Homo sapiens: one gene and its partners. The protein of the gene in region 4 interacts with the protein of the main gene of each other region in a biochemical or structural test. Each region holds a gene or a part of one and is shown on either strand. Other genes may lie near its edges. The genes, in order: MIP, LMO7, DRD2, CALM1, SYK, SCN5A and AKT1.

Evidence for each region.
Region 1: the proteins of CALM1 (region 4) and MIP form a complex in vitro, tested with the Homo sapiens proteins (2 studies listed by BioGRID, with this or other methods).
Region 2: the proteins of CALM1 (region 4) and LMO7 form a complex in vitro, tested with the Homo sapiens proteins (one large-scale study listed by BioGRID).
Region 3: the proteins of CALM1 (region 4) and DRD2 form a complex in vitro, tested with the Homo sapiens proteins (one study listed by BioGRID).
Region 5: of the proteins of CALM1 (region 4) and SYK, one has a biochemical effect on the other in vitro, tested with the Homo sapiens proteins (2 studies listed by BioGRID).
Region 6: the proteins of CALM1 (region 4) and SCN5A are reported together in a solved structure, tested with the Homo sapiens proteins (2 studies listed by BioGRID, with this or other methods).
Region 7: the proteins of CALM1 (region 4) and AKT1 form a complex in vitro, tested with the Homo sapiens proteins (one large-scale study listed by BioGRID).

The regions. Positions count from the first base shown.
Region 1 is NC_000012.12:56,451,858-56,456,020, reverse strand, and holds the start of MIP (lens fiber major intrinsic protein), read left to right. Parts: upstream 1-1,363; 5' UTR 1,364-1,407; coding exon 1,408-1,767; intron 1,768-1,973; exon of another isoform or gene 1,974-2,109; coding exon of another isoform or gene 2,110-2,112; intron 2,113-2,265; coding exon 2,266-2,430; intron 2,431-2,868; coding exon 2,869-2,949; intron 2,950-4,163. UniProt on the Homo sapiens protein: Aquaporins form homotetrameric transmembrane channels, with each monomer independently mediating water transport across the plasma membrane along its osmotic gradient.
Region 2 is NC_000013.11:75,807,330-75,810,829, reverse strand, and holds part of LMO7 (LIM domain only protein 7), read right to left. Parts: intron 3,351-3,500; coding exon 2,631-3,350; intron 1,677-2,630; coding exon 1,647-1,676; intron 1-1,646.
Region 3 is NC_000011.10:113,419,899-113,423,398, forward strand, and holds part of DRD2 (D(2) dopamine receptor), read right to left. Parts: intron 1-3,500. UniProt on the Homo sapiens protein: Dopamine receptor whose activity is mediated by G proteins which inhibit adenylyl cyclase. Positively regulates postnatal regression of retinal hyaloid vessels via suppression of VEGFR2/KDR activity, downstream of OPN5.
Region 4 is NC_000014.9:90,403,529-90,407,028, reverse strand, and holds part of CALM1 (calmodulin-1), read right to left. Parts: intron 3,168-3,500; coding exon 3,061-3,167; intron 2,651-3,060; coding exon 2,515-2,650; intron 2,341-2,514; coding exon 2,312-2,340; 3' UTR 1-2,311. UniProt on the Homo sapiens protein: Calmodulin acts as part of a calcium signal transduction pathway by mediating the control of a large number of enzymes, ion channels, aquaporins and other proteins through calcium-binding. Calcium-binding is required for the activation of calmodulin.
Region 5 is NC_000009.12:90,874,819-90,878,318, forward strand, and holds part of SYK (tyrosine-protein kinase SYK), read left to right. Parts: coding exon 1-31; intron 32-2,752; coding exon 2,753-2,962; intron 2,963-3,500. UniProt on the Homo sapiens protein: Non-receptor tyrosine kinase which mediates signal transduction downstream of a variety of transmembrane receptors including classical immunoreceptors like the B-cell receptor (BCR).
Region 6 is NC_000003.12:38,548,688-38,552,187, forward strand, and holds part of SCN5A (sodium channel protein type 5 subunit alpha), read right to left. Parts: intron 2,872-3,500; coding exon 1,634-2,871; 3' UTR 1-1,633. UniProt on the Homo sapiens protein: Pore-forming subunit of Nav1.5, a voltage-gated sodium (Nav) channel that directly mediates the depolarizing phase of action potentials in excitable membranes.
Region 7 is NC_000014.9:104,778,749-104,782,248, forward strand, and holds part of AKT1 (RAC-alpha serine/threonine-protein kinase), read right to left. Parts: intron 1,469-3,500; coding exon 1,340-1,468; intron 1-1,339. UniProt on the Homo sapiens protein: AKT1 is one of 3 closely related serine/threonine-protein kinases (AKT1, AKT2 and AKT3) called the AKT kinase, and which regulate many processes including metabolism, proliferation, cell survival, growth and angiogenesis.

The DNA of each region.
Region 1 (4,163 bases), on a different chromosome or scaffold from region 4:
AGCAACTCTTCCTGCCAGTGGATAGGTTAGATGGACCCTCTACCTTCACTATAACTCTCTTTCTGTCCATCCCCAAGCTGGGTATTATGAGGAGAAAGCACAGCCCCTGATCTGTGTTCCTTCTCTCTCCCCACAGGTGTACTGGGTAGGACCCATGCTGGGCACCATTCTTGCAGGCCTCACCTCGAATTTCTGCTCTCTGGTGCTTCATGAGAAAAGTTTGTGGCCGGTATGACTTGCCACTATGTGGAGATGGTAGAACCTATCAGTATGTCCCATTCTACCTTCTCCATCACCACACAACCCCACGCCTAGGTCCCAAGTCCCTCACCAAGCCCGAGCACAACTGAACCTCTTTCCCCAAACTTTCCTTCCCCATATTATCCTTTTCCCTCTCTTTGATCGGCTGTTTCCCCAGATCTGATCCCAGCACACCCATACCTTTCCCTGGGGATCAAGGCTTAGGGTGTGCTGATCATGGCTGTATTAAAGGACATTAGACCTTCCCATTGCTTCATAGCCATGACTGTTTCCTTCCTTTCAGTACTTCTTGCTATGACCATGTGAGTTAGGAAAGATGAAATACAAGCTGATTCTAAGGTTTAACTACGAGTCCCTTTCTTATTCCTATCCCTCCAACCCCACTCCCAGCCCATGCAGGGATGATAGTGTCTTCTCTCTGTCGGTCCCTGTAGTTTAAAAAGCCAGGCCTAGGGTTTGAAAAGGGAGGTGCTGTCATGGACTGGGGGTAGGGAACCCGGGCTCAGAGAAAGCCAGACGCAGCAGAACTATTTTGTCCCAGAGCTGCAGGGTCCACAGATTCCAGCCCAAACTAGCCAATGGGAGAAAGGCTTCTAATCCCTGGGAACTAAAGAATTCTCTTTAGTTATCCAACTTCCCTGCTGAACCCCACTCCTTACCACTCCCCCCAACCCTTACCCCTGGCAGACTCAGAGGAGGCTGAGGCCCCCAGGAGCTCAGCCCCAAATGCCATGAAGTGAGCTCAGCTTGATGGACCTTCCAAAGAGAGCTGAAGAGTATTCTAATGTTGATGTCAATCAGGACAATGAACCCCAATTTTGACACACACAGAAGGGCAGACTCTTCCAGTCCTGCTGTTCTTCACCCCCACTTCTCGTAGTCTCTCTTGCTGTGACCCCAATCCCACCCTCACTGCCATGGCTCTCTCGGCTCATCTCCCAGTTGAGAAAGGCGGGAAAATCCAGCATTTTTACCATGTAGGGGAGGGGACTTAGCCCTCCACAGCTGTGAAGGGGTTAAGAGGCTGGGCCTGCTACCTCAGCCTGCCCCTCCCAGGGATTAAGAGTCCTCTATAAAGGGGACTGTCCACCCAGACAAGGCCATGGGGGTAGCAGGGACCCAGGCACTGTGACCATCCCCCCTGCCATGTGGGAACTGCGATCAGCCTCCTTTTGGAGGGCCATATTCGCTGAGTTCTTTGCCACCCTCTTCTATGTCTTCTTTGGGCTGGGGTCCTCACTGCGCTGGGCTCCTGGACCCCTGCATGTTCTGCAGGTGGCTATGGCATTTGGCTTGGCCCTGGCTACACTGGTGCAGTCTGTGGGCCACATCAGTGGAGCCCACGTCAATCCTGCAGTCACTTTTGCTTTCCTTGTGGGCTCCCAGATGTCCCTGCTCCGTGCCTTCTGCTATATGGCAGCCCAGCTCCTGGGAGCTGTGGCTGGGGCCGCTGTGCTGTATAGCGTTACCCCACCTGCTGTCCGAGGAAACCTAGCACTCAACACGGTAATGGTTGGCTGAGAGGGGATGGGGAACCTGGTGTCCTGTCTCTCTATTGCCCTGACTCCCTGACTGGTGCAGGTGAATCAGCTCCCCTGGGGTCTGGGACAATATGTGCATGTGTGAGCATGTGTGTGTTGAAGTGGTGAGGATTGACAGGTGGTTTAGAGCTTTAAGGAAGGCATAGGGCCCTGGACTGAGAATTAAGAAACCTGAGTTTGAGTTTCAGCTTTCCTTCCAACTCCTTGCAGGTTCTTAAGGAAACTTATTTTACCTTTCAAGGCCTCAGTTTCCTCATACATGTAAGTGGCTGCAATCATTTCCATCATGAAGGAGCACTGTTAGGAGATGGTAAGATGCAAATACAATGATTATGAAGGGGGTTGTATTATCCTTCCTCTCCACGGACCTGATGCCGTAACGAGATCCTTGCCGGGGAAGTCTTGAGGAGGTAACACTGTGGCAGCCCTCCTGAGCTGTCTCTCTTCTTCTTCCTTTGCACAGTTGCACCCTGCGGTGAGCGTGGGCCAGGCAACCACAGTGGAGATCTTCCTGACGCTCCAGTTCGTGCTCTGCATCTTTGCCACATACGACGAGAGGCGGAATGGCCAACTGGGCTCCGTGGCCCTGGCCGTTGGCTTCTCCCTTGCCCTGGGGCACCTCTTTGGGGTAAGCAGGAAGGAGAGCAACTTCTCATTCAAGGATTCCGGGGCCCCTAAACCTTTCCCAACTTTTAAGGGTTCTTCCTGCCTACTTCACTGTCAAACATGAACATTGTCCATTGCACTCTCTACTGGCACAAAGGAATCAACTCTGCCCTATCCCTCTCTTGTGACTGCTATATCTAGTCCTTCTTGACCCCAAGGTAGAAATGAACGTATCATGGCTAGACATGGGCTTTGCCTATGGATCCATAGTCTGTTCCCAGACAGGGCATCAGTTGCCCTCACCCCATTGCAGGAACCCCTGGAGAGTCATGCAGGCTGTCCCTCTCCACTTGCTGCTGGCTGGAGAAAAGATGGCAGCTCTCAGGGGCAATGTGGGTTGTGGGGAGAGAAGCTGGGGTGCAGTAGGGGGGTGTCTCAGTTACAACTGTCTCTTTTGCAGATGTATTATACTGGTGCAGGCATGAATCCTGCCCGCTCCTTTGCTCCTGCCATTCTCACTGGGAACTTCACTAACCACTGGGTGAGTGAAGGGAGAGGGGCAAGATCCTGAAGCCCTTCTGGATGGTTGTGGACTGCAGGTTCCAGGCTGGATTCCTGCTTTCCTTCTGCGTGTGTTGGCTGCTGTACCAGCACTCAGCTAAGGGGGCTGTCAGAGAGTTTGGCATGCCTGTGTGAGCAGGATTCATGATTTTGCTAGAAGGAGAGGCTCTTGCTCATATTTTTCCTTCTCTGGTTAGTCAGGGAGTATGCACTGAGTATTCACTGGTTGCTGAACTAGCGGGTATGAAGAGAGACAACTAAATATGAGCAGAATAAATTCTGCTCTCAGAGATCAAGATGTGTTGTGAGCACAGATGGGCCTCAGCCCCATTCCAGTTCTAATACGTTATCGGCTTTGTGTGTGACCATGGGCAAATAATCACTCTGTGCTTCAGTTTGTTTTACTATAAAATGGGACATTACGAGAAATGTGTGAAAGTTATATGTGAGAAACATTTAGCACAGAATCTGATATAAAGTAAGCACTCAATAAATATTGGTTATGTTGATGTTGTGCAAGCCAAACATATGGAAATAATTTAAAAATTTTTCAAAGCTGTACACCCATTTTCATAACAGCATTATTCACAATAGCCAAGAGGTAAAAGCAACCCAAGTGTTCCTCAGTGGATGAATGGATAAACAAAATGTGGTATATACATAAATGGAATATTACCTGTAAAAAGGAAGGAAATTGTGACACATACCACAACATGGATGAATCTTGAGGACATTATGCTAAGTGAATAAGCCAGTCACAAAAAGACAAATACTGTATGATTACATTTATATGGGGTATTTAGAGTACTCAAATTCACAGACGCAAAGTAGAAGGATAGTTACCAGGGGCTGATGGGGGTGGGGTGGAATAGGCAGTTGTTTAATGGGTATAGAGTTACAGCTTTGCAAGATGAAAAAGTTCTAGACATAGGTTGCACAACAATGTGAATATACTTAACACTACTAAACTGTACACTTAAAAACATATATATATTTTTTTGAGATGGAGTCTCCCTCTGTCACCCAGGCTGGAGTGCAGTGGAGCTTGATCTCAGGATCTCAGCTCACTGCAACCTCCGCCTCCTGGGTTCAAGCAATTCTCCTGCCTCAGCCTCCTGAGTAGCTGGGATTTCAGGCGCCTGCCACCACGCCCAGCTACTTTTTGTATTTTTAGTAGAGATGGGGTTTCTCCCT
Region 2 (3,500 bases), on a different chromosome or scaffold from region 4:
GTCATATAATTTACCCCTCACTACAGGGAACACATCCAGCCACTGAAATGGTTGTACATGTTGACATTTCCACCACATACTTGTACTCTGGGTACTTTTATTTCCTTTAAGAAAAGCAACTATTTCTGAGAGCTGCTTACATTATAAAGTTATATTTAATTTACAAATGAAAATTTTTCTGAAAGTTACAATTCAACATGCTTAAAGCTGCAAAGAGATTTTTAATCAAGTTAAAACAGCTTTCCTATGACTTGAGAGTAGCAAATGTTTAAGCATCATGCAGATGAGCTGGAAAGCGGATAATGTGCCTTTGCATGGCACACGGAAAGCATGCAGGGACCCTGGTTTTTAAAATCAGTGGCTAACAAGTACTTGCAATTTGTTGCCTGTGGCTCAGTTACACCTTTGGCATCTAGAATGGTTATACTGCTTTACATTTAGTAGCTTCCAACATTTCTGAATTATCAAAGTTATAAAAAGCTATCAAAACTAGAGATTCTTATAGATGAAGTAAATCCTCATAAGGGAAGATACTTAGCTACTGAGGCTTGAGCAGATTAAAACATCTGTCATCCTTTAACTCTCTTCCTCTTGCTCAAACACTATTAGCCCTTAGATTCACAAAGTTACAGAAAGTTTGGTGGAAAATATTAAGATATAGCCACCTTGTGATTTTGTACTAAGAATGAATAAATGATTTACTGTAAATGTAGTTTTTGCCTGTAATCCCAGCACTTTGGGAGGCTGAGGTGGATGGACCACCTGAGGTCAGGAGTTTGAGACCAGCCGGACCAATCTGGTGAAACCCCGTCTCTACTAAAAATACAAAAATTAGCAGAGTGTGGTGGCATGCAACTGTAGTCCCAGCTACTCAGGAGGCTGAGACAGGAGAATTGCTTGAACCTGGGAGGTGGAAGTTGCTGTGAGCCAAGATTGCGCCACTTCACTCCAGCCTGGGCGACAGAGCGAGACTCCATCTCAAAAAAAAAAAAAAAAAAAAATGTAGTTTTTGCAACAGTGATATTAGAAATTAAAAATATTTTTGCAGTTTTTGAAGGTCTATTTTGCACTATAAATATAGCCATGTTATAACTTTTTTTTCCTAATCAGGAATCTTGAAAATATAATACTTCCAAATACCACCTAGGGAAGTTTAATGCATCCCTACTAACGAAGCTCCCAGTTGGCCGATTATAGGATAATGTCAACTGGGTGTATTCTAAACTTGAAGTAAATGCTAATATTCTTTTTCCATCACAGATTTTCTAAAATGTAGTAATTTGGGCTTTAGCATCCATAAATCAGAATTTTAGTCTATGTAGCAACCAAATACCAAAATACATATACCTAATCTTAGGCAAGTGCTTTTGTGACTTTTAATCAACTCATTAAATTTTTAAAAAGGAAAAAAGAAGGGATGAAGCTGAAGTTTAAATTTTTAATAAAACAAATAATTTTATCTTGCACTGGGCACCAAGACACAGAAATATTACCATTAGGTTGCAAGATAAACATTTCCCACTTAAAAAATATCATGCACAGCACACAACAACCCCATTTAGTGACATGCCATGCCAGAAATACAGTAAGTTATACAAAGAACAAACAACACGCACAGATTTTTTACTGTGAACCACACAACTTACCCATTCTCACCATAAATCTTTTGAAAGAGTCTAAGAAACCAGAAAACCAAAAATTAAAAAGTCATTTTTCCCAGTCATATTAGTTTCTAAACGTTCAATGTCTTCCACTTAAGAATCTAACTGGAGACGGACAAATCTCAAAAGGTCACTTCTTCCATCACATTCTTGATCATGTCTCAAGTTCTCATCAATTTCCTATCTCAGGAAATTCAGATTAAGCAAAATGAAGAATTTCCTCAATTTACTCTGAGCTAACAAATCCATATGAAAAGGCTTCCCATTGTCAGGAACTGTTAAGTTAGATTTGGATCCTCTAATTTTATTCAACCTAATCAGATTTGTCCATCTCTAAGTTCCACAAACTGAACATTCATCAAAAAGGCAAGTTGCATAATACAAACTATCAAAATGGCCATGATTACATACACATAAAATTCAGCAGACAACAAATACCATTCATGCATTTTAACATCAACGTTTACTCTGAACTTCATAAATAAAAATAAGTTACAAATGATAGTCCAAGAAACCTAGGCCAAAACCAAAAATTAAGTTAAATGAAATTTGCAATGCCATATTTTAAGGGAAAATTTCACCCCCCCAAAAAAATCAGACACTCTAAAATGTGAGCAACACATAAAACCAAACTATAACCAGACTGTTACAAAAATGCCTGAACATGAGAAGTCCAGAAACTTCATATTGGTGGATAGTACCACAGTACTGCTTAAGTCAAAGGCAAGGTTTATGTATATACAGTCTTAAACAGGCCTAAATAAGTTATTTAGAGATATGCAAATATGGAATTGCACTTTTTGTACAAAACGACTGAGGGTTTTTCAAAGCAAATTAAATTTTACGGGATGCTTCAAAATGGCACGCGACATGCAGAGTTGAGCAACACGATGAGCTGCTTTCTCGCATGAGAAAAGTTACACAAGACCATCCATTACAAGCAAAATCCTTGCAGAAACACACTCTGACCTCTCCACCATCAGCCTTTTCTTGTGCCTAAGTCTGCTGGCCTCCCGGATGGCCTCCCATCTCTTCAAGTCAGCCTCACTGCAGGGGCCAGGGGTGAAACTGATGGGAGGCACGGTAGTTCCCAGTTTCCAGGACTGAATCTTACGTGTCAGCATGTCATCTTTCTTCTGCCGATATGAAGGAACTAATATTCTACAGCTATTACTTTTTTCTTTGGATGGGCATGTCCTTTCAAGTACACAGAGAAATTTTGCTTGAATTTCTGGAGGAAGAGTCCAGGGTTCGGGAAAAGGGACTGGGTGGTATCTATCTGGGGCCCCAGACAGCGGCACTTCTTTCTTCTGTGCTGGAATTCGGCGAACAATCATATCATCTTTTTCCAAATCCGGAAGTACAAGTTCACCTTCTCTACACTGTAAAATTATATCTCGCTCTACAGAATCATCTTGCTCAGAGAACTTTCTAAAGTCTTCAAAAGCTCGGAGAACATATGGATTTGCATGGAAAGCCCCAGTCTTTCTGACAAAGAAATCATCATTCTCTAAGTCAGGATCCAGGGCTGCCATCTCGAGGTCATCTCTTCTATAGCCTGGTGCATAAGAGAGATTCTTCCTGCGGGTTATGAGCCTTGGGCCAGAAGTGGGATCAATTTTGGTATGTGTTTCAGAAGACAAGATGTCATCAGAGTATGTTTGGAGGGCCTGAAGCAGTAAAAACTGACTGATGCACAGAGAGGAAAAAGGAAAGAGAATCTTATTAAGCTTAGGGAGAAAAGGTAATTAGCAGATCGACTAGCCAAAGGTGATTAGCAGACCAACTAGCCAGTTACTGAGGGTAAATCATTTTAGAGGACCATTGTGGGGACTCTTG
Region 3 (3,500 bases), on a different chromosome or scaffold from region 4:
ACTGTCTTCCTGGGAGCTCACATGGGGGCCCCGTACCAGGGCCTCTCTCCCAGCTCCCTGTGCTGCTGCGCTGACCAGTTTGGCAGGAGCTAACAGCTGGATGCCCATTTTGCGGGTGGAGGCAGGAGGGTACGTAAAGGGCTTTCCTGGCATAAACAGAGTGTGCCTTTAGGGTACCACTGGGCAGAAAACCAGCACTACCTGATTTACATCCCACTTTGAAGCCCCTCCTGGGACCAGTACTTGGGAGCCACTGGGGATCTAGGTTGAGATATCAGGGCCTTCCTCCCTGTCTTCCTCCTCTCCTTCCCTCCTTTCTGCCATCCCTTCTTTCCTACAAACACTTATTGAGCAAATTACTGTGTTCCAGCCTCTATCCTAGGCTCCTGGACACAGTTGTGAGCAATTCAGACACAGTCCTGCCTTCATGGACATCTTAAATCTCTCCTTGCACTGGCCTATCTGGAGCCCAGAATAACAAAGAGATTTCCTCTGTGGTCCCAGGGGAAGCTGCCTTGGAGAGTAGTTAGGGCTGCTAACTTAAAGACTCAAGAAAATGCATTGGTGGCCACTGTCCATAAGACATCTACTGTGGGCATTGCACTTTATCTCATGTATCGTTCTTAAAACTTTTACAAGAAGGGCTTGCTTATCCCACTCATAGGTGAGGGAACTGAAGCCCAGAGAGGCCATGTAACGTGGCCAAGTTCACCTGGCAGGTGTGCAGCAGAGCTGGAATCTGAAACATCACATCCCATGCTCTCTACTAAGCTGCCCTGGAAGGGACCATCTAGCTTATCAAGAGAGGAGATAATTAGGTGACAAGTACTTGGTAAGCATGAAATGTGAAAAGGAAAGATGATTATTTCAAGGGTGGACAAAACTAGGGAGGGTCAGAGAAGAAAACAGAACAAGATCACTTGGTGATTTAGTAGCAGAGGAAGGAGTGGCCCCAGGTTCCCTAGTCGAACCCAAGGCTCTTTTCTTCACACCCCCAGGCATCCAGGCATCATTCCTTAATGCTCTTGCTCACATAAAGCTGAGACCTGCAGTACAGGCCCTGAGCTGGCTCAGCTAAGTCCTAATAACTGTAATAATACTAAGGACTTACCATGTGTCAGGCACTGTTCCAAACACTTGATGCTTATATCTTAGAATGCAGACAGTAAGCCTCAGAGGCAAATGACATAACCACCTCTCCTCCATACCTCCAGCCAGCTACTCCCTCTCCCTGCTGGGTGGCTTTCTTGAGAATGCAAGTGTCTCCCTCCCTCTCCTGCATAATTTTTCCGAAAGCATCATTTCTCCCTGAAAGTCTTCCCTGACACCCTCATGCTGGGCCTTATGCCCCACACCTCCTATGGGGACTGCTCCACTGTCACCGGCAGCAGACTGCACTGTAGGGGCCCTGTCAACCTCTGCATCCCCAGCAGGTCAGTGCCTTAGCCCATTGCACAAGGATTGGGGTAAGACCTCGGAGTGCTCAGTCAGTGCTGACTGAGTGAATGAATAACTCTGAGATATTTGTTCATCTTCTCAATCTCCTCATCTAGAAAATAAATGCACACAGGAAGCCGCTCCTTAAAGGGTTGTGAGGCTGACATGGAATGGCACATGTGGACATCAGGAACTCTTCCAATAGCATCTAGATGGAAAGGAATGGAGCTGGGAATTGAACCTGGTCCTCTCACTCCAAAACCAGCGTGCTTTTCATACACTTAGCAAGATAAATAACGCACACTTAGTCCTAAGCCAGACAGATGTTGGCATGGCATTGCTGGAAATGGAACAGGAGGAAAAAATCTGGATGACAAGAGCATGTATTAGAGAGGGGACAGTGCGTGGTTGTGAGGGTGCGCTGATAGGACATCAGGGCAGGGTGAGACGTCACCTGGGACGTTCTCTAGGGACAACAAATCGCTGAGATAATGTCCATTAAACAAGGCTCAGTGCCCAGCTCTAGTTTGATGAGATGCTGTGGGGAAGTCTGAGCCCTGCCCTCTGAGAATGGCTTCTGCACCCTCCTCCCCTGACACACTCAGCTTCACCTTTAAAATAAGGTGAACAAGCATGTTTAAAGGATCTGTTCGAAAGACTTACAGATTCCTGGGAACCCCCTATAGCCCATGTATGGATTTGTCCCTACCCAAGTGCCTGGGTAGGGACAGGGGGTCTGGAAGCTAACAGAAGCCATGCCCAGAGCCCTGGGTAGAACACACGTTCCTCTGGGAAGAGGGTACCTACTTGCCTGGGGCGAACATAGGGAGTACTCTCTCCTTCCTCTTTATCCCAAGGGGGCGGTGAATAGGAAAGACAGAGTCCTCCCTATGTGGAGCAGTGCTGGATGTCTATTGTCATCTTCATCTTTATCATCATCGCCATGGCTGACATTTACACAGTGCTCACTGTGAGCCATGTATCATTCTAATCACTTTTCATACATCAACTAATTCGATCCTCAACAATGCTATGATGTATGATACTATTATTATCTGCATTTTCCAGATGAGGAAACTGAGGCACAGAGAGTTTGTTTGCTCTACCATTTTTCCCTATGGTCTGAGACCTAGGACCCTCCTTTGGAAGAGGGAAGAAGGAGGGGATCAAGCGTAAGAATTAAGAAGGCATGGACAGAGTCTAGGGGCCCTCATAAACATGGATCCAGGGGGAATTGGACTCCTGGCCTGTGTCAACTGAATATTTTTATGTGGTTTTGTATTTGTGTTTCCTTTTGGTTCTTCCTTAATATCCAGTCAGGTCATTTTGGAAGTTGCAGCCTGCATTGGCTGTAGTAAAGGAAGCCAAGGGGTGATGGATCAGAGCTCCCTTGGGCCCGGGGTGGTGGTGAGAACAGTAAGCGCACGAGCCCCTTGGGGGCCCAGGGACAGGGAGGTGTGCCACTTTCCACCAGTCTCGCCTCCTCACCTGAGCGTCCTCATCTAGATTTCTCCCCTGTTTAAACCTACAAAGCTTTCTCATTTTCTTTCAACAACCCCTTCCCTCTCAGGCAGGGATGGCCTCAGAGGCACTGGTCAATTCCTCTCCTGCTCAGGGAAGGAAGGTAACGGTTCAGTGGGCAGAGCACCGGCACTTTCCTAAATGCCTGATCCCATGCCTTCCCATGCACCTAGACTCCCAGATTGCTTGAGTCCTGGACATGCCATCCTAGAAAGCTGGGCAGAGAAAGGGGCAGGATCCAGCTTGTGCCCACCGATGATCCCTAAATGCTCCCACATCTGCTCGCTGGCTCTGAAGGTGTCTTCCTGGAGAATAATATCTGCTTTGGGATTTCTCCATCAGCATTTCTCCCTGTGACCTGGGTGAAGAAAGGCAACTTCTCCAAAGCTTCTATTTCCTATTTTGTTTTTGTTTTAATTTAATTTTATTTTTTTTTTGAGACAGAGTCTTGCTCTGTCGCCCAGGCTGGAGTGCAATGGTATGATCTCAGCTCACTGCAACCTCTGCCTCCCAGATTCAAGCAATTCTCCTGCCTCAGCCTC
Region 4 (3,500 bases):
TTTAGGATACGCTGCAGGACCACTAAGAGTCCACCCAGCTTCTAAAGACTTGAGGGTTAGAAGGCTACATTTCGAAAAAACAAGTCAAATATCCCCCTCCAGCCCCCTTTGAAACTACCGAGAGGTCATCGACCACAGGCCTGAGACTGGGTCAGCAATCAGGCTCTTTGACCACCCCCTGCCACAAGAAATATCCAGGACATTAACTTACTCAAACCAGGAACCCTATCTCACCAGAAGAGAAACCCCAAGGTAACCTTAGGCATTCCTTTCAGATTCAGGTAATTACAAAAGCCAACCCTTAGCTCATAGTGTCAACATCTCCTCTACCAACCACCCAGCCCAAGGACCAGTAGCAGAAGCACATGGGCGATGTCTCCCCTCCACTGCTCTGACCCACCCCTCTGGCAGAAAATCTAACAAGCTACAAAATGCCAGAAAGACAGGGAGTAGGAGAAGGAGAAGCCAAGGGTCTCTATAAATCAGCCCTGAATGCACCCATTTGGCTGCCAAGAGCTTCTCACTGCCTTGCTAGCAGCCTGCCACTGTTCCCTGGCAAATTGAAACCACCCACGCAAACACTCAAAACCCCAATCTCCTTGCTAATAAGATACAACCAGTTAACACCGTGAAAAATGCACATCTCCAGCCTTCATTTCAAAAAAGAGCTCTGTACTAAATGCAATATGCTTTTAAAGGGGGTTTTACAGGGACCAATCTCAATGCAAAGACCAGTACCAGATGTCTGAGTTTTGGTTACAGGTTTATAATTAGACACAAAATTCACTCCACACTGGAGTTTTACTTTCAAGCTGGAAGCTAGCATTAGTTCTACTTGGGGGGAAAAAAGCAAAGTCAAGTCAACTTGGGAAAAAAAAAAAAAGGAGGAGGAGGCTAAGTATAATCATAAATTAAAAGTCGCGAATCAAAGGTGACTGGTAGTGTCTTTTAGGCATGAAGAGACTGGCTTACAAAAGTGACTACTGCTTCTACCACACACAGCGAAGATTGAATTACAGACACACTAAATCATGTCTCTTGCAGATGGTCTCAAGTAGTTACATAAGACAGGTAATCAGCAGCACAATTGAGAACAACCCCTAAATACATGCTTGAGAGAAAGTGGGTTTTTTTTTTTCCTTAAGAGCTCTACTGCCTGAATAGATCATTAAAAGTTACCATAATTCACCTTCCCCCCTCCCCCCAGTGAAAATGCAACTAGACCTACATGTCCATAAATAGGATGAAGCAATCGGTATCTGCTTGTTTTCAGGCAAGGTCTTGGGCTCAGAGGTTGGTGCTGGGGCCTTGGGAGGGAAACCCAATGCTGGGCTGTGGGCATTTACATGTACACTGGCCTCCCCTCCACCTGCCTTGTCCCCATTTAGATCTCAGCTTTACAAAGCATTTAACACCACTTTAAGTTAATGGTCTTTTTATTGGAAAAAAAAAAAAAAAGACTAGCATTTACAACTTGGAATGGACGTAAACTGTAATTTCTTTGAACAGCAATGTTGATGGTTGTGCTGAAGTCCACAGCCACAGCCTACTCTGCCGGCTCCAAGTCATGGTTCAGAAGGTTTTAAAAACAGAGAGTCCAAAGATGCTCCCTTGGTAAATGTTTCTTATTAAAAATTTGTGTGAACAGTGACAGCCTGACACCTGTTTCACTCTAGAACAATGCAGACAACGCTAAACCAACATACACGGGCATGCCACCAGGGTGTGTCATCGTCACCATGGGTCGGAGCACACGAAGTACAAGAGGACCATCCTACCAGTGGGGCCACGTCTCAACGGTTTATCCTTCACCCATTTTTCTGCACGTCATCCTGAGGTAAACCAATTTTAAATGTGTTTGTTTTCAGTAAACCAGCTATGACAATTTATACTAAACAAATTGAACTAGAACCCATTTGAATAGGTTTTGAATTTGTTTTTTCATTTTTCATTTTTAATACAAAGGCCTGACTGTGCTCAATCGTCAAGCTGCATGCATGAAAAACTGGCCAGCCCAAACAGTGTATTAATCATTAGCAAATGGAACTTTAAGGAGTCCTTATCATTAAGGTAGTACAAGTATTTATATTGTAAAACTGATGTGTAGCTTGATCTTTAGGGGACAGGACCACCAACCAATACATGCAGATTTTGTGTGTGTGGACAGAAGGTACTTTTGACATTCAGTTTTGCTATATAGAAACAGAATGAATAAATGAACTTTTTTCTTTTTTCTTTTTTTTGCAAGAGGTAAGTAAAAGATTCAATTTGATTCTTCTAGAGGGGGGAAAAAGGAGTTGAAAGTAGGTCTTCATTTTGCAGTCATCATCTGTACGAATTCTGAAAAGACAAATATAATAGTAACTTTTGGTTATCTTTGAAAACAGCTTTAATGAACACAACATCTTTACTGTACATAAAATAAAGTCAAAGGCTGTCTAGTGAAGCAGTTGGCTTGCTTACAGATCTAAAGGTAAGACTATGAAACACTGAGCTCAGAGAATTTAGTTTTACCTTCATAGTTGACTTGTCCGTCTCCATCAATATCTGCTTCTCTGATCATTTCATCTACTTCTTCATCTGTTAGTTTTTCTCCTAAGTTTGTCATGACGTGACGTAGTTCTGCTGCACTGATATAACCATTGCCATCCTGTGAACATTCAGCAATTGTTATTGCTAATGATGTAGTGTGGGGAAGTAGGTCTTTGACTTAGCTATGCCCTCTCAAGTTACTGCTAACTCTGCTGCCATAAACAATTCTCTGATCTCTAGTTCCCACCTCTAACCTACTAAATACATGCAAACAGCTAATGCAGAAAACAGGATTTGCAAAAGCTCACAACAATTCAAAGTAACAGTCAAGAAACATGGTCCAAAATTCCTATTTATTATGCCTACCCTCCCCTGATACGGTTACCATAAGGAGGATTTTTGAAAGTGAGATCAGAGGCTCAGGCAGTTAGATTTAAGTCTTCTGTCTATAACATTATTATAGCTTTTAGAAGTGAAAGCGGAAGAAGCCATACTTAAGTACCATCTGCTATGTAGATGCTGGATTACCTTGTCAAAGACTCGGAATGCCTCACGGATTTCTTCTTCACTATCTGTATCTTTCATTTTTCTAGCCATCATAGTCAAAAATTCGGGGAAGTCAATGGTGCCATTACCTCGAATTAAAAAACAAAAAGCTCATGTAAAGTAAGCACTCCATTAACGCTGCTCTGCAGTAATCATTTCAGAACCACTGTACGGAACGGTAAACATGTACTAGGACAAAGGGGCAGACTATCTTACTAGGTTCAATCATCTGCAGGTCTAAAACGTTCAAACACTTCACAGGGCAATTTCACATAATTTCAAACTCATCATCAGTGCCCAGGATAGTATTTAATTATACAAAGGAAACTGCACATCTGGATTCAAGCCCATGGAAGGGTCATGAAGGGCTGTACAGTTCAAGAGAAAAATAGCATACACCACTCCGCAGGCTGAATCTTTCC
Region 5 (3,500 bases), on a different chromosome or scaffold from region 4:
CTGTGAAAAAGGGCTACTACCAAATGAAAAAGTAAGTTGCTATGTTCCACCAGCCTCACCCTCACATGAGCTCAGGTTCTAGACATGACTGAGAATAACAAAATGTAACCTGGCATGACTAAACCCTTTTTTTATTAATGCTACCATTCTTGTTAATTTCTGGTACTATTATAATGAAAGCGTCCATTACCTTTAATGGCAAAAACTGCAATTACTTTTGCACCAACCTAATAGTACATGCACCTTATGGAAAATTAGGAAATAGAAACAAGCAGAAACATAAGAAAATAAAAACATCAAATTGGCATGGTGGCTCATGCCTGTAATCTTAGCAATTTGGGAGGCTGGGATAGGAGGATTGTTTGAGGCCTGGAGCTTGAGACCAGCCTGGGCAACATAGCAAGACCCTGTCTCTACAAAAAAAATAAATAAATAAATAAATAAATAAAACATAAAAAATTAGCCAGACATAGTAGTGCACACATATACTTCCAGCTGCTCAAGAGGCCAAGAAGCCAAGGCTGCAGTGAGCCATGATTGCACCACTGCACTCTAGCCTGGGTAACAAAGCAAGGCCCTGTTTCAAAAAACAAAACAAAAAAAAGAAAAGAAGAACATCATATTTGTATAATACCATCCCAACACTACTACTGTTAACTAAACATTACTACTGTTAACTTAATCTTATTGTATATATTTTTAGATCTTTATTTGTACACACAGATATTATTTAATTAAAACAAAATCATTCCATTATAACAATAGTTTTTACATTTATTTTCTTTAATTTTATAGTTACATCTCATTTTTCTTACATGAAAATTATTGATTCCAAATATGATTAGTATAATTATTTATTGGCTTTATCCTATGATTTCAGATAACAATACATATTATACAACAGTTAAAATTGCTAAATTTCGAAAATATCTTTGTATTTCTTTTGGTCTTTAGAAGGTACCCAACATAGAATGTACAAGTAAAACTACTGGTTTCTAAAGTCCTTTGAAATACACCCTCTGTTTGAATTGGTATGATACTAATATGAATGTGGTTAGATTTAGTAGCTTCATGGTATTTCAAATGTAAGGGATTTTTGTAAAAAAAAAATTCGTGAGTAGGTAATTTTTATGATTCAAGGGTTAAAAATATAGACAAAAATATACACAGACATGCGTGCTTTCCGGCCGGGTGCCGTGGCTCATGCCTATAATCCCAGCACTTTGGGAGGCCAAGGTAGGTGGATCACCTGAGGTCTGGAGTTCAAGACCATCCTGGCCAACATGGTAAAACCTCGTCTCCACTAAAAATACAAAAAATTAGCTGGGTGTGGTGGCATACACCTGTAGTCCCAACTACTTAGGAGGCTGAGGCAGGAGAATCACTTGAACCTGGGAGGAAGAGGTTGCAGCCAGCCAAGATCACACCATTGCACTCCAGCCTGGGCAACAAGAGTGAAACTCTGCCTCAAAAAAAAAAAAAAAAAAAGAAAGAAAGAAAAAAGAAATGCTTGCTTTCCAATCTGTCCCTTCGATTTGTTTTTGTGCATGTGTGTGTGTGTAAATTAGATACACATACATGTATGTATACACACACAAACATACACACATATGTATACATTCACAAGTATATACATGCGCACATATATACACACACAATCAAAATTGGCTGTGATACTTATTTTAAAATATATGTTTGTATATCACAGTCATTTTGTACAATGAGTAAAAATGTTTCTGTATTAATCCTAAGCTTTTTCAGATTATGAAAGGTTGTGATCTTTATTCTGTGCTTAAATTTGTGAATTAACATAGACATGACTGTGGACATAATTTCAACTAGAGAATTTGGGGAGAGGAGAGGCTCTCTCGGTCAATTTGGGGCAAAATGATGTCTTTACAATACTGAGTCTTTCAATCTATAAACACAGCCCATCTCTCCATTTACCAGGTCTTCTTCAGCCTCTCTCAGGAGAGTTGTTTACCTTTTCAATGTATTACATTGAAATATATGCTTTTAAATTCTGCACCTAGAAATTCACTTTCAACAATTATGAAAGGCATTTTATATTCACATTCATTACATGTAATCTGAGATGGTGAATCCCAAGATGTTACAGGAATTCGTACATGTCATCGTTGGTGAAGTTTATTTACAAGTTATTTAAATATTTTACAGTTTAGGGTTTTTGCTTGGTTGGGACATTCTTCAGTACTGTTCTTCACCATTCTTTTTATTTTATATTATTTTTTAGAAACAGTGTTTCACTGTGTCACCCAGGCTGGAGTGAAGTGGCAAGAAGCTCACTGCAGCCTTGAACTCCTGAGTCCAAGTGATTCTCCCACCTCAGCCTCCCGAGCAGCTGGGACTACAGGCTTGCACTGTCACACCTGGGTGATTTTTTTTAGAGATGGGGGTCTCACTATGTTGCCCAGGCTGACCTTGAACTTCTGACCTCAAGCAATCCTCCCCTTTCAACCTCCCAAAGTATGGGGATTGTCAGCATGAGCCACCATGCCCAGCCCCCACCATTCTTTTTTAGTAATGGAGTATTACTCTCATTGTCTATAAAATAAGGGAATATAGGTTGGAAGGCCAGCCATCCATTACAGGCTTCTGAAGACACATTGCCACTCTGTGGCAGGTATTTCCGTGGGACTGTTTCCACAGGGGGATTATGCTTCACAGGATAAGATTATCTAGAAGTGAGGCATTTTGGAAAGTTTCTTGTGTGTTATGATTTCTCTTGCAGAGTTGTGAAAACCGTGGCTGTGAAAATACTGAAAAACGAGGCCAATGACCCCGCTCTTAAAGATGAGTTATTAGCAGAAGCAAATGTCATGCAGCAGCTGGACAACCCGTACATCGTGCGGATGATCGGGATATGCGAGGCCGAGTCCTGGATGCTGGTTATGGAGATGGCAGAACTTGGTCCCCTCAATAAGTATTTGCAGCAGAACAGGTATTGTCAGGTGCCCCCACACATCTGGAAGCTATCCCCTAAGGGACAGGGCCCACCCCTGGATGGGCCGAGCAGCCTGATTTCCTTGGGAAGCCTTCCCACCCTCCTGTGCCTTCCTTTATTGGTCCATACTCAGGGACCTTGACAGAGGGACAGGGAGACATAGTCTTTGGATTCAGCTCTGTTAGCTCTAGTTGTTCAGAGAAGAACTCATTTGACAGTTTTGTCTTTTTTTTCTTCCTGTAGTCATTCAGTCTTGGCCTAGTGATAGACTCAGCCTCAGAATATCTTGACATGGAATCTCCTTTCTCACTGGGAAGAACACTTTCTTTTTAAAGAAACATTTTAAATAAATGCTTTTCTAAGAGGTGACAGTTAAGTCTTATCTGTTTGGCTGACCTTATGTTCTCATGAGTGATGACTTCTGAAAATACCAATCACTGCTAATTGATTACATCCATCAAGGGAGTAATTGTGTTCTTCTCATCTAAAGCTGTTGTTGAGATGAAGAAACTCACTTGGAGTAAGACAGAATGAT
Region 6 (3,500 bases), on a different chromosome or scaffold from region 4:
CCGACAGCTCGGCGAGGTAGGTTAGGAGCAGCCAGCCCAGAGCCGGCAGGTGAGACTGAGGTGGCCTGGGAGGCATGCGCCCGGTGGAGGGGCTCCATGGGAGAGCTGGAATGGGGCAGCCAAGCCCCTGCCTGCTCAGGCTTCGCCAGTTGACCCTGTTACCTCAGGGTGACAGTTCTCTATGTTAAAAGATTTGCATATGCTAAATAGGATTGTCAGCAGCTGAAGAGGTCCTGGGGGTGATTGGACTAGTAAAATATTTTTCCCTGAAAAAGCCTTTTCACAAGACCTATGGGACCACCTGGATCTTGCCCCAAAGAGGTCCTCTGTGTGGGTGCCATCAGGATCCCGGGCTGAGCCAGAGAGGCTGGGCCTGACCACAGTGCCCCCTCTCTCAAAGGTGCCATGGTTCATTCCCCTCTAAGGGCACGAGAACTGGGCCTGACCATCCCTTTCCCTGCACAGGGCGCAGGGCCAAGCTCCGCTCCCCACTCCCATGTCTCTGTGTCTGGAGAGGAGCTGGAGACCACACAGAAAACTCCTCCGCGTATGGTCCAGAGAGCCCTGGGAGATCGCCAGTTTCCTCTCTTCAGGCAGGCTGAGGGGCCGCCATGGCTCAGGGCTGGTGAACTTCTTAGCCCCAAACCCCCATGGCTCAGCCCTCTCTTCCGATGGCTGGCTGGGCAGGGCCTGCCAGGTTCCAGGAGCAAGGACAAGCTGCATGCCAGGCCGTGAATGGGGCTTGCACCCTTGTGTCCTTTGGTTTTGTTAATACTCTTACAGGAGGGGAAGAAAAGGCAACTATCAGTGCCTAGGGCCAGCCCTGGGACCCAGGCCACTCTCCTCTGGAAGCCTTTTATTTTTGTAGGACTGACAATATGACCTGCGTGAAAACACAGGGGGAAAATGGGACCTTGGAGACAATAGGGGGCCAGAGTGAGCCCCGTGGACAAGAACCCCATCCTTGGGGGGCCGGCAGGGAAAGGCCTGTCTCCCTTAGGCTGGGAGCCTGGGTCCCACGGCCTGTGTCTGGCCTCCGTGTGTGAGGACTGTGTGTGTGTGCTTGTGTGAGTGGGGGTTCAGCCCTCCCAGCATCTCAGGTCAAGTGGGAGGGGGACCCCATTCGACCCCTGGGCAGTGAAGACCTGTGGGAGCCACACTGGATTCCACTTCTGCTTTGAGAACAGACTTCCGGCTGCTCCATAGACACTCTTGTTCAGGGTTAAGAAGAGACAGCGTGAATTGCTGCCCATGTCCATGGAAAAATCCTTAGTTCTTTGCTCAAGTAAAAAAATATCAAATATAATAAATTTATGAAAGCCCATTCACAACATATACAGTCTCAGTTTTATATTTCGCCTCAGCAGCTGGGATGAAGTTGCTTTCCAGAGCCGCAGGGCATTGCCTGACCAGACCAGGTCACAGGTCTATCTGAGGCCTCCAAGCACAGGCCAACTGCTCCGGCTGTCCACGCGGCGCCACAGAACTCTGCCTGGTTGATCCGCGGGGCTGAGGCCCATTTCTTACTCCCAAAGCCAGGAAGGCCCCAGGCTGGTTTGTGACTGACTGCATTTAGGTTTGCCATGGTGAAAAAGGCTGCTTTTCAGTGTGTCCTGGCCAGCCAGGCCGAGGCTCACACGATGGACTCACGGTCCCTGTCCGGAGAAGGGGGGAAGTCGGCGAGATCTTCACTGTGGCTGTAGTCAGACCCCCGCACCTGGAGGTTATCGCTGGTGGCTCTAGTGACACTGTCATAGGAGGGTGGGAAGGAAGTGGAGGAGATGGAGGAGCTGGAGGGTGGGCCAAGGGGTCGGGAGAAGTTCTCACTCATCACGTAGGCGATGAGGCCCTCTCGCTCAGGGGCATCCTCTTCGGAGAGGCCGCTGCCCGCCTGCTGACGGAAGAGGAAGGAGGCATGCTTCAAAGAGCGTTGCAGCAGGTGCCTGCGGAAGGCTCTCTGGATAACCATGGCCGACACCTCTTCGTGCTTGCGCCGGAGTGTGGTGGTGATGGGCTCGTAGGAGATCTTGGATGGGTTGGCTGCCATGAACTTCTCCTCCATCTGGATCTTCAGGGCGTCCATCTCCCCAGACTCCCCCAGGACCCTTTTGGTGAAGGCAAAGAGAATGTCCATGCAATGGATGCGGTCCCCACTCACCATGGGCAGGTCCATGTTGATGAGGCTTATCTGGTTGGGCTTGGCGATACGGAGTGGCTCAGACAGGGCATCGGCAAAGTCAGACAGGACCGAATACTCAATAAACTGAGTGGCCTCTGGGTCAAATTTCTCCCAGATCTCATAGAACATATCGAAGTCGTCCTCACTCAGGGGCTCGGTGCTCTCCTCCGTGGCCACGCTGAAGTTCTCCAGGATGATGGCAATGTACATGTTGACCACGATGAGGAAGGAGATGATGATGTAGGTGGTGAAGAAGAGGATGCCCACGGCTGGGCTCCCGCAGTCCCCCCGAGAGCCATTGCTGTTGGGCAGAGTGGGGTCGCAGTAGGGCGGCCCAGTGTTGAGGATGGGGCTGAGGAGGCCATCCCAGCCGGCCGACGTGGTGATCTGGAAGAGGCACAGCATGCTGTTGGCGAAGGTCTGGAAGTTGAACATGTCGTCGATGCCAGCCTCCCACTTGACATAAGCGAAGTTGGCCATGCCAAAGATGGAGTAGATGAACATGACGAGGAAGAGCAGCAGCCCGATGTTGAAGAGGGCAGGCAGGGACATCATGAGGGCAAAGAGCAGCGTGCGGATCCCCTTGGCCCCTCGGATCAGTCTGAGGATGCGGCCTATTCGGGCCAGGCGGATGACTCGGAAGAGCGTCGGGGAGAAGAAGTACTTCTGGATGATGTCCGAGAGCACAGTGCCTGTGGGAAACAACAGAGACTGTGGCTACTGGTGGCACCTCTGTCTTCCAGCCAGCATCACTGTGCAGGGGTTGGCGGTGGGGGGGGGGTCTCTATATGGCAAGGAGCCAAGGAGAGGCGGCCCTTCCAGGATTGCGTCCACTGGGCATGCTAGGACTCTGCCTGCTCCTGTCTGTTTGAGTCTCCATGTCTGCATCTGTGACCCAGAAAAATGGGTCCTTTGCAGGGTTCCTTCTCAGCCCCCTCATTCCTTAATCTTCAGTGTGTACCTACACAATAGAGCTGTCCTAGGCCCATCTTCTACATCTTGGGTTCTCAGGCCAGAGGGGATCTGCTTAGTATCTTGCCCACCCAGCTTGGGCCAGAACTCAGGTCTTTTAGCTCCTTGCTATTCAAAGTGTGGTTTGAGGACCAGCAGCCTTGGGATCTCCTAGGTGCTTATCAGAAATGCAGAATCTCAGCTCCACCCCAGCCCATTGCATCTTAAGAAGCCCAGATGATTTATGTGCCCATCGAAGGGCATGAAACACTGGCCCAGAAATCAGTGCTCCCTGATGCCACGCCATGGCCAGTGTCTTCTCTCAGCTTCTCTGTGATGGTTCTTATCGCTCTCCTAACTCTGCCTCCTT
Region 7 (3,500 bases), about 14 Mb from region 4:
AGAACCTGGGGGTCCAGCAAGTTCAAGGGAGTCGGAGGACCGCAGGCCTCAAAGAAAGGAGGGCAGAGCTACTTGGAGGGGAGGGGCCGATGCAGCACATGGGGATGGAACCTAAGGCCAGCCCCTGGTGGGCACCTCGCTCTGCACCACAGACCTGCCTGAGACAGATCCCAGAGGCCTGCAGTTACCCAGCCCTGCCACATACAGATGGCCCACAACTGGGCCCTAATTAGCCACTCAGTCACACCTGCATGCCCAACCCGTGTCTCTGGCTGCCACAGGCAGAGCTGGGCTCCAGGACAGGGACACAGAAAATGGGGACCATGCTGGGAGGCCCACGTGTCCCCAGCCTCCCACCTAGCAGGGCGCCTGGGTCTCCATGCCAGGGTTCCCGTCTGACATGGGTAGGGTCGCACCTGCCCCCGCTACAGGTAAGGAATAAAGCCACAGCAGGGCGGAGCAGGGAGCGTCACATGTCTCTCATCTCTGTGGGATGCTCCGGCCAAGGTCCCCCGCTGGCCTTTCTGCACCTGCCCCTCCATGGGCAAGGAGGCAGCCTCACAGAGGGGAAGCAAAGGCTCTGCCATGGGGTCTGGAGGCTGAGAGCCTGTGCAGGGAGAGGCACGAGCTCTTCCTCGAGTGATGGAGGCTTCAGAGCTGGAGACCCCAATGGACTCTTGCCCCCTCACCCAAGGGGTTTCCCAAGGAGAGGCCCTGATGGGCTCTATCTAACCCCCTTGGAGGAGGGGCCCCCGGGGCAGCTGTCCACCCTGAGACTGGGCTCTGCTGCCACTTGTCCGGACCCTCCAGCTTCCAGAGCATGGGCACCAGGGAACTGCTCCAGGGTCAGCCAGCCTTGGGACTCGGCCCAGAGACCCCCGCCCAGCCAGCCTCGGCCTCAGGACTCTGCCCAGAAACCCCTGCCCAGCCGGCCTCGGCCTCGGGACTCAGCCCAGAGACCCCGGCCCAGCCAGCCTCGGCCTCGGGACTCGGACCAGAGACCCCCGCCCAGCCAGCCTCAGGACTCAGCTCGGAGACCCCTGCCCAGCCAGCCTCGGCCTCGGGACTTGGACCAGAGACCCCTGCCCAGCCAGCCTCGGCCTTAGGACTCAGCCTGGAGACTCCCACCCAGCCAGCCTCAGCTTTGGGACTCAGCCCGGAGACCCCTGCCCAGCCAGCCTCGGGACTCGGCCCAGAGACCCCCACCCAGCCAGTGCTTGTTGCTTGCCAGCCCAGGACTTGGAGGCTCCAGGGGACCCCCATCGTGGGGCCTGGTGGGCAAAGAGGGCTCCAGCCAACCCCCCAAATCTGAATCCCGAGAGGCCAAGGGGATACTTACGCGCCACAGAGAAGTTGTTGAGGGGAGCCTCACGTTGGTCCACATCCTGCGGCCGCTCCTTGTAGCCAATGAAGGTGCCATCATTCTTGAGGAGGAAGTAGCGTGGCCGCCAGGTCTTGATGTACTCCCCTACAGACGTGCGGGTGGTGAGAGCCACGCACACTCTACCCGTCAGACCCTCGCCAGGCAGCCAGGCAGGAACTGGGTGTGCCAGGACAGATGTGCCTGGGATGCCTGAGTCCCAGGGGGCAGGCGCGGTACGGGAGCTGTTTCTTAGGGCCAGCGACAGAAACGGCCCTGGGTCAACGGGAAGGCAGACTCGCCCCACCACAGCGCCCCTCTCAGAAGAGCCACCCCGAGCTGTGTCTGAAAACGGGCTGGGCCAGCTGGACGCAGGGGATGGAGTACCATGGACAGGAGGCTGGGAAGAGGTCTGGGCCAGTCTGCACAGCCTTCCTGGAGGAGGCAGCCCTAAACCAGCCAGTCCCCAGCAGGCACCAGCAGCAGCTCGGGCCCCAGCTATGGCCACAGGGGCTGCGGGGCTGACAGCATTCCCCAATCAACCAGGGTCGGCCAGGTGGCGACAGCAGGTGACAGTGGCTTGTGTGGGCTGCCCAGCATGGCCGCCCCCCCCGCCCCGCCGCCACCCACCAGGAGGATGGAGCATGGCGTCCACAGTTAGAGGTCAGCACCACTCAGACTGAGGGCCGGGCTCGCGGGACAGGACTGCCCACTGCCGTGGGATCGCACTCCCTGTCTAGGGGCCTGGAGCACCGTCTTGGGGACTGCCGATGAAGCCAGACACGGAGGTGGCCCAGCCAGCTGGGCAGGGGCCCCAGGGCACAGAGGGTGCCAAGTCCCCAGGCTGAGACCCACACTCAGGCCCTGCCGCCGTCGGCCCTGCCGCGTCCCACCCGTGGGTCATTCAGGTACACGGGAACATTCTCCCTCAAGTTTTGCAGCATCAGCCGTACGCAGGCGTTCACACTTCAGAATCAGAGCAGCTGTCCTCGGTGATAGCCCAGCAAGTACCATTTTTCATACTGACACTCGGAAAAAAATGTTCCACTTACATTTTGCCAAGCAAGGAGTTTGAACAACAGGGAACTTACTAATTAGGCAACTGCTTCATCTGAGGGGTCACTGGGCAGGGGTTAGGGAGGGGGCCAGGGTAAGGGGTTGGGGTCCCTGAGCTCTGGGGCCTGGGTTTTCATGCCACACTGAGCCCCAGACAGGGACACCTGGAGGGATGTGGGGGACAAGCAATTGTCCCATCACCAGACCACCCACCACCCAGTCCTGCTGGGTCTTCGTGGTGAGCCCAGACGCGTCCAGCCCTCCCTGGTGCACAGGGAAGTCCCAGCAGGGCAGCAGCCCCAGGGGAGCTCAGAGGACATGGGTCATGGGCATCCCAGCAGGCATTCTACTTTCCAGGGAGCCACGGGGGAGTTCTTTAATAGAGGTGAGCCACCAAGGCTCGACACATGGCCACCCCCCGGCCAGGTGACCTCTCCCTCCTACCCCGGCCCCAGCTGCCCAATGCCCTTCCCACCAGCACCACGGGGCGTGGTCTCCACAAGACCAGCCCTCTCTCTGCCCAAGCCAGGGCTGCTGGGGGGATGCTGGTGGAGGGTGGGGACACCCCACCCAGCAGGGCCTGAGTGTGGGAAGAGGCTGTTGTCAGGTCTGGGGTGGACCAGGAAGGGGACAGCCACAGCCCACTCATAGCTGCCTGACACCTCTGGAGGACGGCCAACACCCAGTTGCAGGGAGGATGATCCAGGGCCCAGAATCTGCCCCTGTGCCCAAGAGCACTCATCAGGAGACCCCACCCACTCCGCAAGCCCTCCATGCCCCTGCCAGTGGGCTGCCGAGCAGGCGTGGTCCTGCCACCCTTGGGTGCCGGCTCCTGTCCCTGACCTGGGATCTCGCACACCCCCGAGTGTGCACATACACGCACATACGTGCCACGCAGCTCCACCCCGCCTCCCACGTCCCCTCCCCCAGCCACAGGGCCCCTGCAGGTGCAGCGGGCAGGCAGGGGCGCTCAGTGAGAGCAGAGCAGGCTCAGGGGGCTGCATGCAGCCCACCCCACCCGTCCCCCATCCTGGGCCACCCCGCTGCTCACGCCCACCCGCCTGCATGCCAGTCTGGAGCTGTC